Regions from separate parts of the Homo sapiens genome. Here region 2 is linked to region 1. Evidence: fine-mapped expression QTL. Tissue or cell type: fibroblasts. Region 1 holds a variant in brackets; the other region holds the start of a gene. All regions are shown on one strand. Distances are between the middles of the regions.

Region 1 (8,393 bases):
TTACTCATTCCCTGGATATCCCATGTATATAAGAGGTATACATGTTATTAAACTTCTGTTTTTTTCTTGTTAATTTGTCTTTTGTTTACAGGGATCCCAGCTAGGAACCAGAAGGGTAAAGGGGGAATTATCGTTTACTCCCCTGTACATACAAACCCAACCAAAAAGTTAATGTCACTGTATTTACTTCCAACAAATTAGACTTCAGAACAAGGAAAATAATCAGGGATAAAGAGAGCCATTACAAGTGAAAAGGTGATCAATTCTCCAAGAAGACTTAATAATCCTAAATGTGTACACACCTTCATACACAGAGCTTCAAAGTACTTGAGGCAAAACCTGAAAGAACTGAGAAGAAAAATAGACAAATCCACGATTATAGCTGGCATTTCAACATTCTCTCTCACTAACTGAATGAGAGACTAGCCAGAATTCAGTAAAAATAAAGGCAGCCTGAACAGAGCTTGGCAACCAACTTAACTGGTATTTTTAGAACACTCCATCCAAAAATAGCAGGACACACATTATTTTCAAATGTACATGGGGCCAGGCGTGGCAGCTCATGCCTGTAATCCCAGCACTTTGGGAGGCCGATGGGGTGGATCACCTGAAATCAGGAGTTTGAGACCAACCTGGCCAACATGGTGAAACCTCGTCTCTACTAAAATGCAAAAAAAATTAGCCAGGCGTGGTGGTGCACTTCTGTAGTCCAAGCTACTCAGGAGGCTGAGGTAGGAGAATCGCTTGAATCCAGGAGGTGGAGGTTGCAGTGAGCCGAGATTGTGCCACTGCATTCCAGCCTGGGTGACACAGTGAGATTCCGTCTCAAAAAAAAAAAAATGTACGTGGAACATTGATCTGGACAGATCATATTCTAAGAAATAATACAAACCTGAAGATTGGCGAATAGTCTATAAACTTAAGGAAAGCATTAATTATATTCAATCAAGCAATTTTTTTCTTTACCATGGAATCAGTACTGTTACAGCTATGTGAAAAATCTCAAAGACTCTACAAAAAGAAAAAAATTCCTGGAATTGTAATGAATAAGTTTAGCAACCATACATAGTCAATATACCTAAATAAATAATATTCCTTTATACCTGGAATGGGCAACCTTTTTTCTTTTTCTTTTTCTTTTTCTTTTTTCTTTTTCTTTGAGGTGGAGTTTTGCTCTTGTTGCCCAGGCTGGAATGCAATGGCGTGATCTCAGCTCACTGCAATCTCTACCTCCCAGGTTCAAGTGATTCTCCTGCCTCAGCCTCCCAAGTATGTGGAATTACAGGCACATGCCACCACTCCCAGCTAATTTTTGTATTTTTCGTAGAGACGGAGTTTTACCATATTGGCCAGGATGGTCTTGGTCTCGTGACCTCGCGATCCGCCCGCCTTGGCCTCCCAAAGTGTTGAGATTACAGGTGTGAGCCACTGTGCCCAGCCGGCAACTTTTTTTTTTTTTCTGAAGGGCAAAATAGTAAATATTTTATTTTTGTAAACCATGTGATCTCTGTTGCAACTAACTCTGCTCTTGTAATGGGAAGCACCCATAGACAACACGTAAATAATAAGGGAGCGTGTCTGTGTTCTAGCAACACTTTATTTATGGCCACTCAGATCTGAATTTCAGTTTTCTCAGGTCACAAAAATGCTAGCCTTTTGATTTTTTCAACTGTTTAATAACGTGAAAAATGATTCTTAGCCAAAGAAAAGCAGCAGGTGGGGAATCAGATCTGCCTCATGGGTCACTATTTGCAGACCTTTGTTATATAACAACTGGAATTTTAAATTATAAAAATACCATTTACAATAGCCAAAAAAAAGACAAAATAAAGTACACAGGTATAAATTTAACAAAATATGTGCAGAATCCGTATGCTGAAAACTACAAAACTCTGATGAAGATCAAATAATACTTAAGCCAACAGCTTTTTATGGATCAGAAGGTTGATATTGCTAAGATGTCAATTTCCCCCAACTTGCTCTATAAGTGCAAGGCAATCCCAATAAAAATGCCGGCAGGAATTTGTGCAGATATTGAAAAGCTGACATAAAACGTGTCAACCAACACTTTGATACACTGGCCCCTAGGAAAGTAAGGATTGATGGATTGAAGTACAAATTTTACTTTTTTTCAATACTCTTTTAGTGCGTTTTTTGCACACTCAGTGACTACCCCGCAACCACAGAGGGACCTGGGGAGGAGTAGCCCCACCACCACGCCCAGTTAATTTTTTTGTATTTTTAGTAGAGACGGGGTTTCACCGTGTTGGCCAGGCTGGTCTTGAACTCCTGATCTCAGATGATCCGCCTGCCTTGGCATCCCAAAGTGCTGAGATTACAGGCATGAGCCACCATGCCCGGCCGTCTAATGCTTCTTGGACAATGTGGCATGTTGGTGTTAAAAACAGCCTTATTTTGTACAGATGGTTTGGGAGTGGCTCTAGTGTTTGAACGTCAACTGTTTGGGGACTGTTGCTTTGATTTTAATCCTGTTTGACATGAAATGTTATCCTAGTCTTACTAGTGATGTGTGTAAACTATATACATGAGGATTTACACTTCATGTGGGGAAATGGGTGAGACTTCACCTGTGACTTCCTTTTCTCATTTCACTATGAGGAATATACTGAAGTGCTTGATGTGCGATTGCTTTAGAATTCCTGGTTTTAATGGGATAGCGTGGCTTCTTTGATTTTTTTTTTTTCAGTTACTGTATTTTGCAGTTCTCTTCCAGTCCTTTTTATATTCATCAATGATCTTACACTCCTGCTTCCTCTGCACACTTGACCATAGGCAGTCTTAATTGTAATAGCTGTTTTTTCTGTTTTTTTTTTTTTTTTTTTTTTTTGAGATGGAATCTCGTTCTGTCTCCCAGGCTGGAGTACAGTGGCGCCATCTCGGCTCACTGCAAGCTCCGCCTCCCAGGTTCACGCCATTCTCCTGCCTCAGCCTCCCAAGTAGCTGGGACTACAGGCGCCCACCACCACGGCCGGCCAATTTTTTGTATTTTTTTTAGTAGAGATGGGGTTTCACCGTGTTAGCCAGGATGGTCTTGATTTCCTGACCTCGTGATCCACCTGCCTCGTCCTCCCAAAATGCTGGGACTACAGGTGTGAGCCACTGTGCCCGGCCGTAATAGCTGTTTTAAAGCTTTTCTTCACTAATTCCACCATCCGCATCAATCTGAGTCTTTTTTATTCTCTCTGCTAGCGGTGAATTCTAGCTCTGTCTTGTTGCATGCCTGGTAATTTTAGGTAGAAGACCAGTGTAGGGCCAGAAAGGGGGTGATCTCTTTCCTCGCCATTGTAAAGGATCACAGGTGACACAAAACTGGTTAACAAGAGAAAAGCATGGTAAATTTGTTACATGCACACGTGCCCATGGGATCCACACAAAATGTGAACTCAGAGGGGCAGATGGTTGAGACTTAAATGTCCATGTCATGGGGGAAGGAGA[A/T]ATGGGGGAATGAATAGGTCCAGTGCTCATACAATGGTTCACAGGAACATTGGTTCACAATTGGTGTGACAATGGTTCACACACCAAAGACTGTCATGTTATGCAGATAAAGTTTCTTAGGTAACTTCTTGGAGCTGCCCTAAGAAGAATAGAGGAAAAGTCTGTCTGAATGTGGTGGTGACTGACTCCCCATCTTCTCTCTGGTGGTTAATCTTTCCTGGTTTTTGAGATCCCTACGGAGGGAGTCTAAAGACCATTGCATTTCTTTTGGAAAGGAGCTTTCTAAATTCTAGTGTCCCTCCCTGCTCTTGGAAGAGGAATAAAATAAGATTAGAAGGGCCTTGATTCTGAGGCTGCTTCTAAGGATTTTCAGCATGTCACAGAGCCAATATTTGAGGTTTCAACTTCTGAGTCCCAATGTCAGTGTTAAAACATTTCCGAATACAGATGAAGTGGACTTCCTGTGGTTAAAATGAGACACACACCCAAAACAGAATCTCATGGCCAGAAGGATGAGTTAGGCACATATTTCTGCGTTAATTGCCGTAAGGTTCTTTCCTGTAATTAAGCAGAAACCAACTCCTGAAAAGCATTGCGGAAACAACTACAGCTGGAGAATTTCCCAGCTGACCCTAGGAAACTGCCTGACCCCAGCTGATTGAGCCTGCCTTGACGGTCCCAACACAACTCCAACTGGACAGAGGACTGGCCAAAAAAGCATTGTTTACCGGTAAATAGCCCCTAACCTCAGGGCAGTTTCGGCCATTATAGAGACTGTGGACTAACTGTCTTTGTGCACTACAGTTCACTACTTTTTTATTTTTTTTAAACAGAGTCTTGCTCTGTCCCACAGGCTGGAGTGTAGTGGCGCGATCTCGGCTCACTGCAACCTCCGCCTCCCGGGCTCAAGTGATTCTCCTGCCTCAGCCTCCCGAGTAGCTGGGATTACAGGTGCCCGCCACCATGCCCAGCTAATTTTTGTATTTTTAGTAGAGATGGGGTTTGGCCATGTTGGTCAGGCTGATCTCAAACTCATGGCCTCAAGTGATCCGCCCACTTTGGCCTCCTAAAGAGCTGGGATTACAGGCGTGAGCCACCGCGCCTGGTTACAGTTCACCTTCTGGCATACAGAGACAAAGTCCACATAATTTTAATACTAAAACCCCATCCCAAAGTAAACATGGAATGTTAACATGTTTATCCACTGCACATCCCCCTGGCTTCCCTCATGAATATTCATAGATTTCTCCAACCCTGCTCAATCTGTATGTAAGGTTAACCCTAGAAGACCTAGATACCAACTTCCCCCTCCCTCTGCCAAGCATGCCCTTTCAGGTTTCCCTGGAAGCCATGTTCCCCAATCTGAGAACTGCTTCTTCCTCTGAAGAGAAAGTTTTCTTTCCTTCTTCCATGGATCTCATGTTCTTCGGCTAACACCAGCATTGTGCATTTTATATTTTGGGGGTCTGGGCATTATGTGTTCCTTTAACAAAGGATGGGTTTTGCTCTTTGCTGTTAAGTTACTTGGAAACATTCTTGCTTTAGGGGATTGTTTTTTGGGGGGCCAAGGTGGGCGGATCACCAGAGGTCAGGAATTCGAGACCAGCCTGACCAATATGGTGAAACCCCGTCTCTACTAAAACTACAAAAATTAGCCAGGCATGGTGGTGTGCGCCTGTAATGTCACCATGTTGGCCAGGCTGGTTATGAACTCCTGACCTCAAGTGATCTGCCTGCCTTGGCCTCCCAAAGTGCTGGGATTACAGGCGCGAGCCACTGCGCCCGGCCTGGATGATCTTAAAGTGGAAAGCACAGAGCCCATTTAGGGGGCTTCCTGGCCACATGGGTTGTCAACCTAAATAAGAAACAGAGAGAGGCTCTCTAAAGGAAGTGTTTTTTAGGGAATAGGACATTGCAACAGGAAATACTGTAGTTAAAGTATATCCATATTCAGAGAGGTAAAGCAAGACAAAGGATTTTAAGGGAAAAGTGAGGAGATTACATAATTGTTTTTGAAATAATTATCCGGCCGGGTGTGGTTGCTCATGAGGCCTGTAATCCCAGCACTTTGGGATGCCGAGGTGGACGAATCACAAGGTCAAGAGATCAAGACCATCCTGGCCAACATGGTGAAACCCCATCCTACTAAAAATACAAAAATTAGCTGGACATGGTGGCACCCACCTGTAGTCCCAGATACTTGGGAGGCTGAGGCAGAAGAATTGCTTGAACCCGGGAGGTGGAGGTTGCAGTGAGCTGAGATCGCACCACTGCACTCCATCCTGGCGGCAGAGTGAGACTGTGTCTCACAAAACAAAACAAACAAACAAAAAATTATCCTTTGCTACAAAGATCAATAATAAGGGCGATACCAGGCTGTGTTTGGACAGGCAGTTGCTGGGCAGATGTACTTGCAGAAGTGTTTTTTTATGTAAGGTTGTGATGGCCTTTGTGCAATGTTGTGGTTTTTGTAGAGTCTTTTTCATTCTCAGGCATAAAAGTGTGAGAACCTTCTCTTCATGGCCTTCGTTGGCTTTATTTGTCAGGATTTTCTTAACCTCAGTGACTCCATTTTGATTATGACAATTTTCAAGGGTATTGGGAATGCGGCCTGAAATTTGACTATGGAAATGAAGAGAATGTGATCTTTTTAGGTGACATGTAAAGAATCAAGGATTGCCAGGTGCAGTGGCTCATGCCTGTAATCCCACCACTTTGGGAGGCCAAGGTGGGAGGATCACTTGAGGTCAGGAGTTTGAGACCAGCCTGGCCACCATAATGAAACCCCTTCTCTACTAAAAATACAAAAATGAGCTGATTATTGTGGCAGGACCTGTAATCCCAGCTACTCGGGAGGCTGAGGCAGGAGAATTGCTTGAACCCAGGAGGCGGAGGTTGCAGTGACCTGAGATTGCACCATTGCACTCCAGCCTGGGTGACAGAGTGAGATTTCATCTCAAAAAAAAAAAAATCAAGGATTACACTTGGGCCAATGACATTCAGTTTAAACTGACTTAAGAAGGTACACACAGTCCCTCGCTGTCTGCTCACTGATACTCTCCCTTGACATGAAGGTATGATTCTGAAGAATTGGGTGCTATGCAGTGAATGGTGCCTGAAATACCAGTTTCATTCTGAGTGGGGCCATGAGGGCACCCAGGCCAGCATCTGAGATTCTGAAGCCAGAAAACAATCTCAGCAGCATAGTCCCAGCATTCTTGACCACCCTGTGTACAGCCCTGTTCTGCTTTTTCCCACCATCGGTTCTTACATCTATTAACCCAGCACTTTGGGAGGCTGAGGCAGGCGGATCACTTGAGGTTAGGAGTTTGAGGCCAGCCTGGGCAACATGGTGAAACCCTGTCTCTACTAAAAATACAAAAATTAGCCAGTCGTGGTGGTGGGCACCTGTACTCCCAGCTACTCGGTTGGCTGAAAAAGGAAAATCACTTGAACCCAGGAGGCAGAGGTTGCAGTGAGCCAAGATCACACCACTGCACTCCAGCCTGGGCAACAGAGCGAGACTCCATCTCAAACAAAAAACAAATGTAATCAGAACACTCTGATTCAGACGGTCTGACTACATTACATCCGGGGCTTTTGATAGCAGCAGGACTCTTGTGAGCTTCCGAGACTGCCAGAAGAAAAGAGGAGCAAATACATTTCCACACTCAGGAACCCCCTGACTCACTGCATTCCAGCAGCTCAGAGTGAGTTCCTGCAGACTCCTCTTCTATTTTCTGAAAGGTATTGTGTTAATTTTGGAGTAAATTTTGCTTTAAACACTTGATAGAATTCTCCACTGAATGCATCTGGCCTAAAAATTTTTTTTAGTCTTAAAATTATGATTTCAATTTGTTTTCTTTTTGTTTGGAGACAGCGTCTCATTTTGTCACCTAGGATGGAGTGCAGTGGCGCAATCTCGGCTCACTGCAACCTCTGCCTCCCAGGTTCAAGCAATTCTCCTGCCTCAGCCTCCTGAGTAGCTGGGATTACAGGCGCCTGCCACCACACCTGGCTAATTTTTATATTTTTAGTAGAGACGGGGTTTTGTCATGTTGGCCAGGCTGGTCTCGAACTCTTGACTTGTGATCCACCTGCCTCAGCCTCCAAATGTGCTGGGATTACAGGCGTGTCCACCACTTCTGGCTGATTTCAATTTATTTAATAGTATAGGACTATTCAAATTATTTATTTCATATAAGTGATTTGTGGCAGTCTGTGGGATTTTTTTTGTTTGTTTCTCAGGAACTGGCATATTTCATTGAAGTTGTCAAATTTTATGTTTATAGAGTATTCTCTTATCTTTTTGATGTCTGCAGGATCTGATTTGTGTAATAGCCCTTGTTTCATTACTGATATTGACAAGTTATGTCATGTTCCTTTTTTCCCCGAAGTTTTGCTTCTCAGCAAGAAGTCCTGTTGGGTTGATTCTTTCTCAGCCTTGCTTTAGAGCTGTGCCCCACACATTTCGATATGTTGTATTTTCATCTTCATTCCTTCCATGCATTTTGATTTCCCTTAAGACTTCCTACGGACCCATGGATTATGTAGAAGTGTGTTATTGATTTTCCAAGTATAAAAGTTTTTTATGTTGTCTTTCTGTTCTTGTTTCCAGTTTGATTCCATCATGGTCAGAGAACACATTCTGTATGATAAAATTCTTCTAAATGTGTTGAAGTTTGTTTTATGCTCTGGAAATTGGTCTATTGGGTGTATGTTCTCTGGGCACTTGAAAGGAATGTATGCTGTTGTTGGTTGAAGTGTTTGACAAATGTCTGTTAGATCCTTTTGGTTGTTGGTGGTGTTGAATATCATTCTATTTCCTTGCAGATATCCTGCCTAGTTGTGTCCTGATGTTGAGGGAGGGATGTTGAAACCTCCAACTACAATTGTGCACTTGTCTAATTGTCTATTTCTCTATTCATTTTCTTCCA
Region 2 (8,393 bases), 47 kb after region 1:
AAAAAGTTTGAGACAATCCCAGAATCTCTAGTTGTGCTAAATGATGACGGTCTTCTTTTACACAAAGCCAATCCTTAGAGACTGCTGGAGGGGACTGTTTTTTTCAAGTGGTCAAGTCTCAACAAAAGATCACAAGGCTGTAAAGAAAGAGTGAAACACATCCCAATAAAAAGAAACTAACCTCCAGAAACCAACCCTAAAGAAATGGAGATCTGGCCGGGTAAGGTGGCTCATGCTTATAATCCCAGCACTTCAGAAGGCTGAGGCGGGGGGATCACTTGAGGTCAGCAGTTTGAGACCAGCCTGGCCAACATGGTGAAACCCCATCTCTACTAAAATTATGTGAATTATCCACGTGTAGTGGTGGGCGTCTGTAGTCCCAGCTAGGTGGGAGGCTGAGGCACAATCCCTTGAACCTGGGAAGTGGAGGTTGCAGTGAGCTAAGATCACACCACCGCACTGTAGCCTGGGTGACAGACTCCTGTCTCAAAAAGATGCTAAAGGGAATTCTTTAAATTGAAAGGTAATAACAACATGAAACTATGAAAATATAAAGACTCTGGTAAAAAATACATAGATACAGAATCCCTTAGTATTGTAATGTTTGAACATAAACCATTTTTAAGCCTGCTGTAGAATTTGAAAGAAAAAAACAAAGCTAGGCCGGGCGCAGTGGCTCACGCCTGTAATCCCAACACTTTAGGAGGCTGAGGCAAGTGGATCACTTGAGGTCAGGAGTTCGAGACCAGCCTGACCAACATGGTGAAACCCTGTCTCTACTAAAAATACAAAAATTATCCGAGCACAGTGGCTAGTGCCTGTAATCCCAGCTACTCAGGTGAGGTAGAATCGCTTGAACTTGGGAGGCGGAGGTTGCAGTGAGCCGAGATTGCATCCAGCCTGGACAACAAAGCGACAGACTGTCTCAAAAAACAACAACAACAACAGCAACAAAGCTGGGCATGGTGGCATGTGCCTGTAATCTCAGCACTTTTGGAGGCTGAGGTGGGAGGATCACTTGAGGCCAGGAGTTCGATACCAGTCTGGGCAACATAGGTAGATCCTGTCTCTACGAAACATTTTAAAAAATTAAAAACTGACTGCTATAACTTTTTGGTAGATTAGCCCTTTTATCATTATGTAATTTTCCTGTCTCAATTTTCTTTGTCTACAAAGTCCACATTATCTGATATTAATACAGTAGACCACTTCAGTGCCTTTGACATTGAACTCATGGGTTCTGGGTGACCAGGGTCATTGTCCAATATCAAAAGAACATTCAAGGGCAGTCCCTTACTGGCAAGGTACTTCGTGATTTCACGGACAAAAGCATTAGTGGAACCAGTCCAGAAAAAGTTTCTCATTGTCCAGGCCTTTTGGTTGTGTGCCCAAGAACAGAAAGTTCATCCTTAACCTTTTCCCTCCAAGGCTTGGAGGTTAGCAGCATTGTACATAACAGCAGTTCTGATCATAAACCCGACTACATTTGCACAAAACAGTAGAGAGACTCCATTCCTTCCTACCTTTATTTTTTGTAAAGACAGCATCTCGCCATGTTGCCCAGGCTGTCCTGGAACTTGCGGTCTTGAGTGATCCCCTGACTTCGGCCTCCCAGGGTGCTGGGATTACAGGCATGAGCCACTGTACCCAGCCTGGCCTTTACCTTTCTTACAGCTCTCTGGGATTTGGCATTATTTCAGGTTTGCCAAGAAAATAACATCCGTTTCCAAGATTTAAAATGTTGCTGGTGTGTCCTTACTTGTTTTTCCTGACCTTGTGAATTAACAAGTTTTCAAACAATCTGTTACATTTGCTTTTAGTGGTACAGAGGAGGCAAAATACATTTTTCTTGCGCGTCCTATGTTGGTGGCTGAGACCCCTAAGACAAAAGACAAATTAACAAGAGCAAAACATACAAGTTTCTTTAATACAAGTTTTACATGACACAGCAGCCTACATAAGGAAATGAAGTCCCAAAGAAACAGTTAAAGTTGTGTATTTTTATGCTAAATTTGATGAAGTCACAGAGAAATATAAATGGACAAAGAGGATATGATCTAATAGTAATACACTGGGGGCAACTTAGCAAGGCCTGTTTGTTCAAGAGTTTTCTCTGTGACTGTGTGTCTTCAGCAATAAAGATGTTACTTTCCTCCAGGTATAGGGAGTGCAAATCTCACATGAGAATCTTACGACCTGCTTCAGGGGACGTTAGGAAATTCTTCCTAGGTTTTACAACCTGCTTCGTGGGAGATGTGTGGAAAAGTCCTTCCTGTTTCTGCTGTTTTCTCAAATGATGAGGTGCCATATTTTGGCAGTGAGTGTGTGTGTCCTGAACTATATCAGTACGTGTTAGGAGGGAACAAAATTAGATGTGTTGTACCCAATCTGCCTTCTTTTCTTCTTTACTGTATGCTTTGAAGGCTGCAAAATTTCCTCTAAATATTCCCTTTACCTAAATCTTTTCTAAAAAGTTTCTAGTCTTTTAAAAAATGTTTAGCTTAATTACATTGTCAAAGAATATGGTCTTGTGTGATACCAATTGCTTGAAATGTGTTGAGGCTACTTTACAGACTAGTATGAGATCATTTCTTAAGTAAATATATGCTTTTCCATGTGTTTTCTTCAGTTTTGGGGTGGAGTAGTCTACATGTCTATTCATTAACATAAAACTAATTTTGCTTTTCAAATATTTCATATCTATAGTGACCTTTTTGTCAGCTTTTCTATTAGTTACTGAGAAGGTAGGTTAAAAACTCTGAGGCCAGGGTGGTGGCTGACGCCTATAATCCCAGCATTTTGGGAGGCCAAGGCAGGAGCGTTGCTTGAGCCCAGAAGTTTGAGACCAGCTTGGGCAACAGAGTAAGATCCCATCTGTACAAAAAAGAAAGAAAACAAAATTAAAAATGGGTTCTGCCCATGTTTGCTTTATGTATTTTGTATCTTATGTTATTAAATACATAAAAGTTTAAAATATTTTATTTGCTGGTAAATTAATGCCTTTTTTTTTTTTTTAAGACACTCTCTTGCTCTTGTCACCCAGGCTGGAGTGAGGTGGCGCAATATCGGCTCACTGCAACCTCTGCCTCTCAGGTTCAAGTGATTTTCTTGTCTCAGCCTCCCGAGTAGCTGGGACTACAGGTGCCCGCCACCACGCCTGGCTAATTTTTTTTGTATTTTTAGTAGAGACAGGGTTTCACCATGTTAGCCAGGCTGGTCTTGAATTCCTGACCTCAGGTGATTCACCCACCCGCCTCCCAAAGTGCTGAGATTGCAGGCCTGGCCAGAGAGACGACTTTAGCCGGGGTAAGGGGCCGCCTGGGAACCCCGCGTCCCGCCTGGACACACCGATGACCTGCAGAGGCCACACCGTGGGCCACCTCAGCTGGCCACTGGCACAGCCTTGCCCTCTGGGGCCCCGTTCTCGCACACGCCGACGGCCTGGCCGCACTGCAGCCCCGCAGCCTTGTGGGAAATGTAGTCTGGCGCTCCGGGCTGTAAGCGCCGGTCGCGGCTGTGTCGGTCGCCGCTGCTCCCGCTCCTGCTGGGAGAGGGTGAGTGCGGGGCCGGTGGCGGGGGCGCGCGCCATCCGTGAGTCTTGTAGGCCCCCGCAGGAGGAGCTCCGGATTGCGGGGCGAGGCCCCAGCTTCCTGAGGGTTGAGGGGCGGGCCCGCAGCAGATGGGCCGGGGGTGCGGCCTCACTGCGCCTGTGGAGCGCCGGGCCTCCGGCTCCAGGTGCGCTCCCTCTTCCCCAGGAGCTGGCGGCGGGAGCACGCTGGCAGCTGAGTGTCCTTCGGCGCTGTCCTGGGCAGGCGCCGAGGTGGAATCACAGCCCCGGAGCAGCGGGGATGGGGGCTCGAACAAGGGCCACGCCGGCCACCACGGGTCAGGGAGGGGCCCAAGGTTCCAAGAGTCGCTCGGACCCGGGTTCCTCCCTGGCTTTCCCCAGCCGCGCGCAGCTTTGTCCCGGGACACGCTGCGACCGTGGAGCGAACCTAACCCGCGGACATCCCGGGGATTCTGGGCCAGAGGCTGGGTCTCCCTGTGCAGCATCTGCCCTTTGTGTAAACCGGGTCTCCGGACCCGCCCTCTGGATCTCATTCCGAGAGCGCTGGCGTGGGCTCCCCTCCCATCTCACAATAAGAATGGGGAGGCCAACCTGGTGCAGGTTTCGACCTCGGGGAATCTTTTCTTTTTTTCCTTAAGCGATTTCACTGTAGCACAACTGGAAAATTGAGATTAAAACAATCATTCAAAATCTATCTCCATCTGCATGGCAGCGTGGATATGTGTATAAGCATAGAAACACTTTGTACTTTGTTTTTAAACAGAAATATGAATATTAGCAGCTTTTTCTCCATCTATCTTTTAAAACTGAGTCATGAGATGCATTTGGTAAGGGGTTTGAAGTGCACAAATCTTAAGCCTTGTAATTTTTTACTGGCCTAAACACCCAATGAAGATAGAGAATACATCTGAAAAAAACATTGGAATATGTTGACACCATCTACTTATACCAGATTTTAAATAGAGCTACGTCATTTTAATGAGTGTGAGGGAAAGTATGGATGTGTCGTATTGAATCCTCTCCTTAGGTTTTTGTGTTAGGGTTTTCTTTTTTCTTTTTTTTTTTCAGTATTATAAACAGTATAGGCCATCTGGCTACATACATCTTTGCATTTTGTCTTATTCTATAAATCTCTTAAAGTGAAATTTCTAGGTCCAGGGTACAGTAAGGATTTTGATACCTCCTGTCTTATTCCCTCCAGAAAAGTTGCAGTTTATATAAACACTTGCAGTGTAAGAGTGCCAGATTTACCCACACCAACTGTGAATGTTAGTATTCTCTTGAACTTCTGAGAGGTGCAAAAGATAGGATTGTTTACATTTGCATTTTGAACACTAATGAATATTTTCACGCAGTTTGCATTTTGTATTTTAATTTTGTATCTGATACATAAGCATGTTTCCTGACTGTGCAGAAACGTCACAGGTTCTTATGGTCACACATGAAAACCTTTTCTTCACGTTTGGGTGTTTGACATCACTGGCAGAGAAGCTGTCTGTCCCACGAGATTACAAAAATGTTTGTAGTTTCTCTTAGTACTTTCATTTTTTGTGTACATTTTTATTTTTTTCCAAATGGTAAGCCTTTGTTACAAGTTACTTAGTAATTTTTTCTTCGTTGATATGAAATGTCACTTATTTCATATCTTGAATGAAATATATATATACACACACATACATAAATACATGTGTATTTGAACCATTTAGGTTGGTAGAATTTTAATTTGTTCCATTGATGCTTTTCCCTGTTCGGCTATAACATCCATGATTGCGGAGAGTTTATCTGTTTTATTTACAGCTGTATCCACCCCTACCCCATGCAATGGTGCCTAGTATACAGTAGGTGGTCAACAATGTATCTGGTAAATAAGTCAGTAATATTGTGTTCCAATTCTTGTAGCTTTATGAATACTGGTGGGCAAGTTGTCTCTCATCAGTATTCTTTTTTAAAAAAGTCTTAGTTGTTGTAACACACAACTTAAATATTTTTTCCATAATTAGTGAACTTCTTTTTTTTTATTGAGACGGAGTCTTGCTCTGTCACCGAGGCTAGAGTGCAGTGGTGTGATCTCGACACTGCAACCTCTACCTCCCCGGTTCAAGTGATTCTCCTGCCTCAGACTCCTGAGTGGCTGGGATTACAGGCGCCCACCACCACTCTCTAATTTTTGTATTTTTGGTAGAGACAGGATTTTGCCATTTTGGCCAGGCTGGTCTCGAACTCCTGGCCTCAAGTGGTCCACCCACCTTGGCCTCCCAAAGTGCTGGGATTACAGGCGTGAGCCACCGCGCATGGCCCATATTAACTGTAAAATATTGTTACTTAGGCATAACTTGGCTGGGAATGTGTTAAGTTTATGAATTAAAGAAATGACATCCTGGTATATTGAGACATATTGTGCAAGAATATGTCATGTCTCTCTGTCTTTCGTCTTTGTATAGCTAAATAGGCATAATGAAGTGAACTTAATACATGAAAATCATTTTCTTTATGTAGCTACTATCCAGGTCTTATTTAGTTTATTTATAGGTATTTTCATTGTTGCTGTTGCAGGAGTCTTGTTTCTCATGGCTTCTTTCCCTTCCCTCAGCTCTGCCTCCTTTGGCTTCTGTCCCTCCCCAAGGAAGAACCCCACAGGAAGGAAGGAGAAGGCAATGGCTGCTTGGCCTCTGCCATTGGGAGCTCGGGTGAGCTCATTTTTCCCTCTCAAACCTCCCCCTTCCTCCTGTACTGCATGTGGGCCTCACTGCTCAGGACAGGGTTATTGAAATAGCAGAATGCTGGATATTTTTCACAAAGCCCCCTCTGTGTTCCTGACCTCTGTTCCTAGCTGCCACTTACTCAGCTGGATACCCTGGCCTGCTGTGTTCTTGGTGCTGTTCAAGGGTCAGAAAGGGAAAAAAGTTATATGCAAGCTGGTGCTGGTGCTTATAGGGCTTATGGGCTCTCAGGGATCATAAAAGAGGGCACATCTGCATGGTATACAGTCATAATTGCACCTGAATATGGTAATAAGAACAAGTGTGGTTAGGGACCCAGTTTATCCGTATTCCAAGCTGGAGTGAAGGGGAGGATCAGGGTGGTGGCCAGGAGAAGTAGGTAGTGTTTGCCCATCTCAGGGGTTGGGAAGGGATAACTGGAGAGGATTTGTTATAAGGGAGTCAGTGTGTCCAGAGTTTAAATCCCAGCTCTACCATTTAATAGCTACATTGTCTTGGCAAGAGGCTTGGCTTTCCTGAAACATTATTTTCTCATGGTCATAATAGGAATTACAGCATTACCTGTCTGCCATATAGGTGACATGAAGAACGTCACCTGGCTGATTTCATTTAATAGTAATAGCTACTTCATAGGTCTGTTGAAAGTTCAAATAAAATAATAAAAGTAAAAAATGCCTGGCATGGCTCCTGGAATGTTGAAGTTATTCAGTAAGTTGTAGGCATTCTTAGTATCATCCCAGCCAAGAGCCTGTGTATAGACTTTTAGAGGTGGACTGAAGGGGGCAGTGACTGATAGTGAGAAATGCTCTGCTGGAGTAGAAGAAATCGGATAAAAATTTTAGGACCAAGTGTCGGGAAGGAGGAGTTTGTGTGTTTGGCAGGGTGGTGGCCATGGGGGTGGAGGTCAGTCTGAGGAATTTTGATAAGGGAGTTCGCACAATCAAAACTTTCCTAGGAAAAAGTAGTGTCCGTGAGATGGAGGGAAGCATGGAGCTGGGATAGTAGGTGAGGATTCCAGGCTTCTCTGAAAAAGAAAATAAGGCATCAGAAGACTTGGCCCTAACTTCTTTTTTTTTTTTAAGGTTAAACTTACTTAGCCTTGTTGTCTGGAATACTGAAGACTTAACGGCATTTTCTCTTCTCATAAAAGTATGTATTAGGGGTCGTTGATTTATTAGGATCACTTGTTTATTTATTAGAGACCAGTTTAAAGAAAGCTTCGTGGAGGCAAGTATAAACTGTTGTGATTTCCATTTGTACTGCTTTCTTCAGTATTATCAAACTCAGTTATAAAAGGCAAAATAACTTTTAAAATGGGGGTATTGGACAAAGGGAGTTTCTGGAAGAGGGAAATGTTGAAAGGGGAAGCATTAAGAAGATTTTGGTTGATGACTGTTGTGGTTTGGTTGTCAGTAACCTACATTTTAATTTATGTAGCCAAAATAGTGTTAATTTTTAAATCAGCTTTTTCTGAGGCACAGTTTAATAAAATAACCCAATTTAAGCATAGAATTCATTGAGTTTTGACAAATTTATGCACCAACATAGCCACCACCTCAGTCAAGGTACAGAACTTTTGCATCACCCCAGCCAGCCAGTGTCCTCGTGCCACTTCTACTCCACGTCCCCCTCCCCAGCCAGACAGTGTCCTCGTGCTACTTCTACTCCACGTCCCCCACCCCAGCCAGCCAGTGTCCTCGTGCCACTTCTACTCCATGTCCCCCACCCCAGCCAGCCAGTGTCCTCGTGCCACTTCTACTCCACGTCCCCCTCCCCAGCCAGACAGTGTCCTCGTGCCACTTCTACTCCACGTCCCCCACCCCAGCCAGCCAGTGTCCTCGTGCCACTTCTACTCCACGTCCCCCTCCCCAGCCAGACAGTGTCCTCGTGCCACTTCTACTCCACGTCCCCCACCCCAGCCAGACAGTGTCCTCGTGCCACTTCTACCCCACGTCCCCCACCCCAGCCAGACAGTGTCCTCGTGCCACTTCTACTCCACGTCCCCCACCCCAGCCAGACAGTGTCCTCGTGCCACTTCTACTCCACGTCCCCCATCCCAGCCAGACAGTGTCCTCGTGCCACTTCTACTCCACGTCCCCCACCCC

Alleles and levels. Alleles are on the strand shown, and positions count from the first base shown. SD is a standard deviation of normalised expression in the study named.
As copies of A replace T in region 1, the expression in fibroblasts of the gene that starts at base 3,493 in region 2 goes up (small effect, 0.13 SD a copy in GTEx).

Evidence for each region. PIP is the estimated chance that this variant, and not a neighbour inherited with it, causes the effect.
Region 2: it holds the start of ZFP2, and the variant in region 1 is fine-mapped to the expression of ZFP2 in fibroblasts (GTEx, PIP 0.96).

What each region holds. Positions count from the first base shown.
Region 1 is chr5:178,845,569-178,853,961 of GRCh38, forward strand. No RefSeq gene overlaps it. Among named protein-coding and RNA genes, the nearest start is that of ZNF354B, 10 kb to the right of the region's middle. The variant A/T (reference allele first, on the strand shown) is at 3,457.
Region 2 is chr5:178,892,421-178,900,813 of GRCh38, forward strand. It overlaps ZFP2 (ZFP2 zinc finger protein), which reads left to right and starts at 3,493. Exons shown (of 5, transcript NM_030613.4): 1 at 3,493-3,554. RefSeq lists an enhancer at 3,206-3,395 and silencers at 3,506-3,615, 3,686-3,735.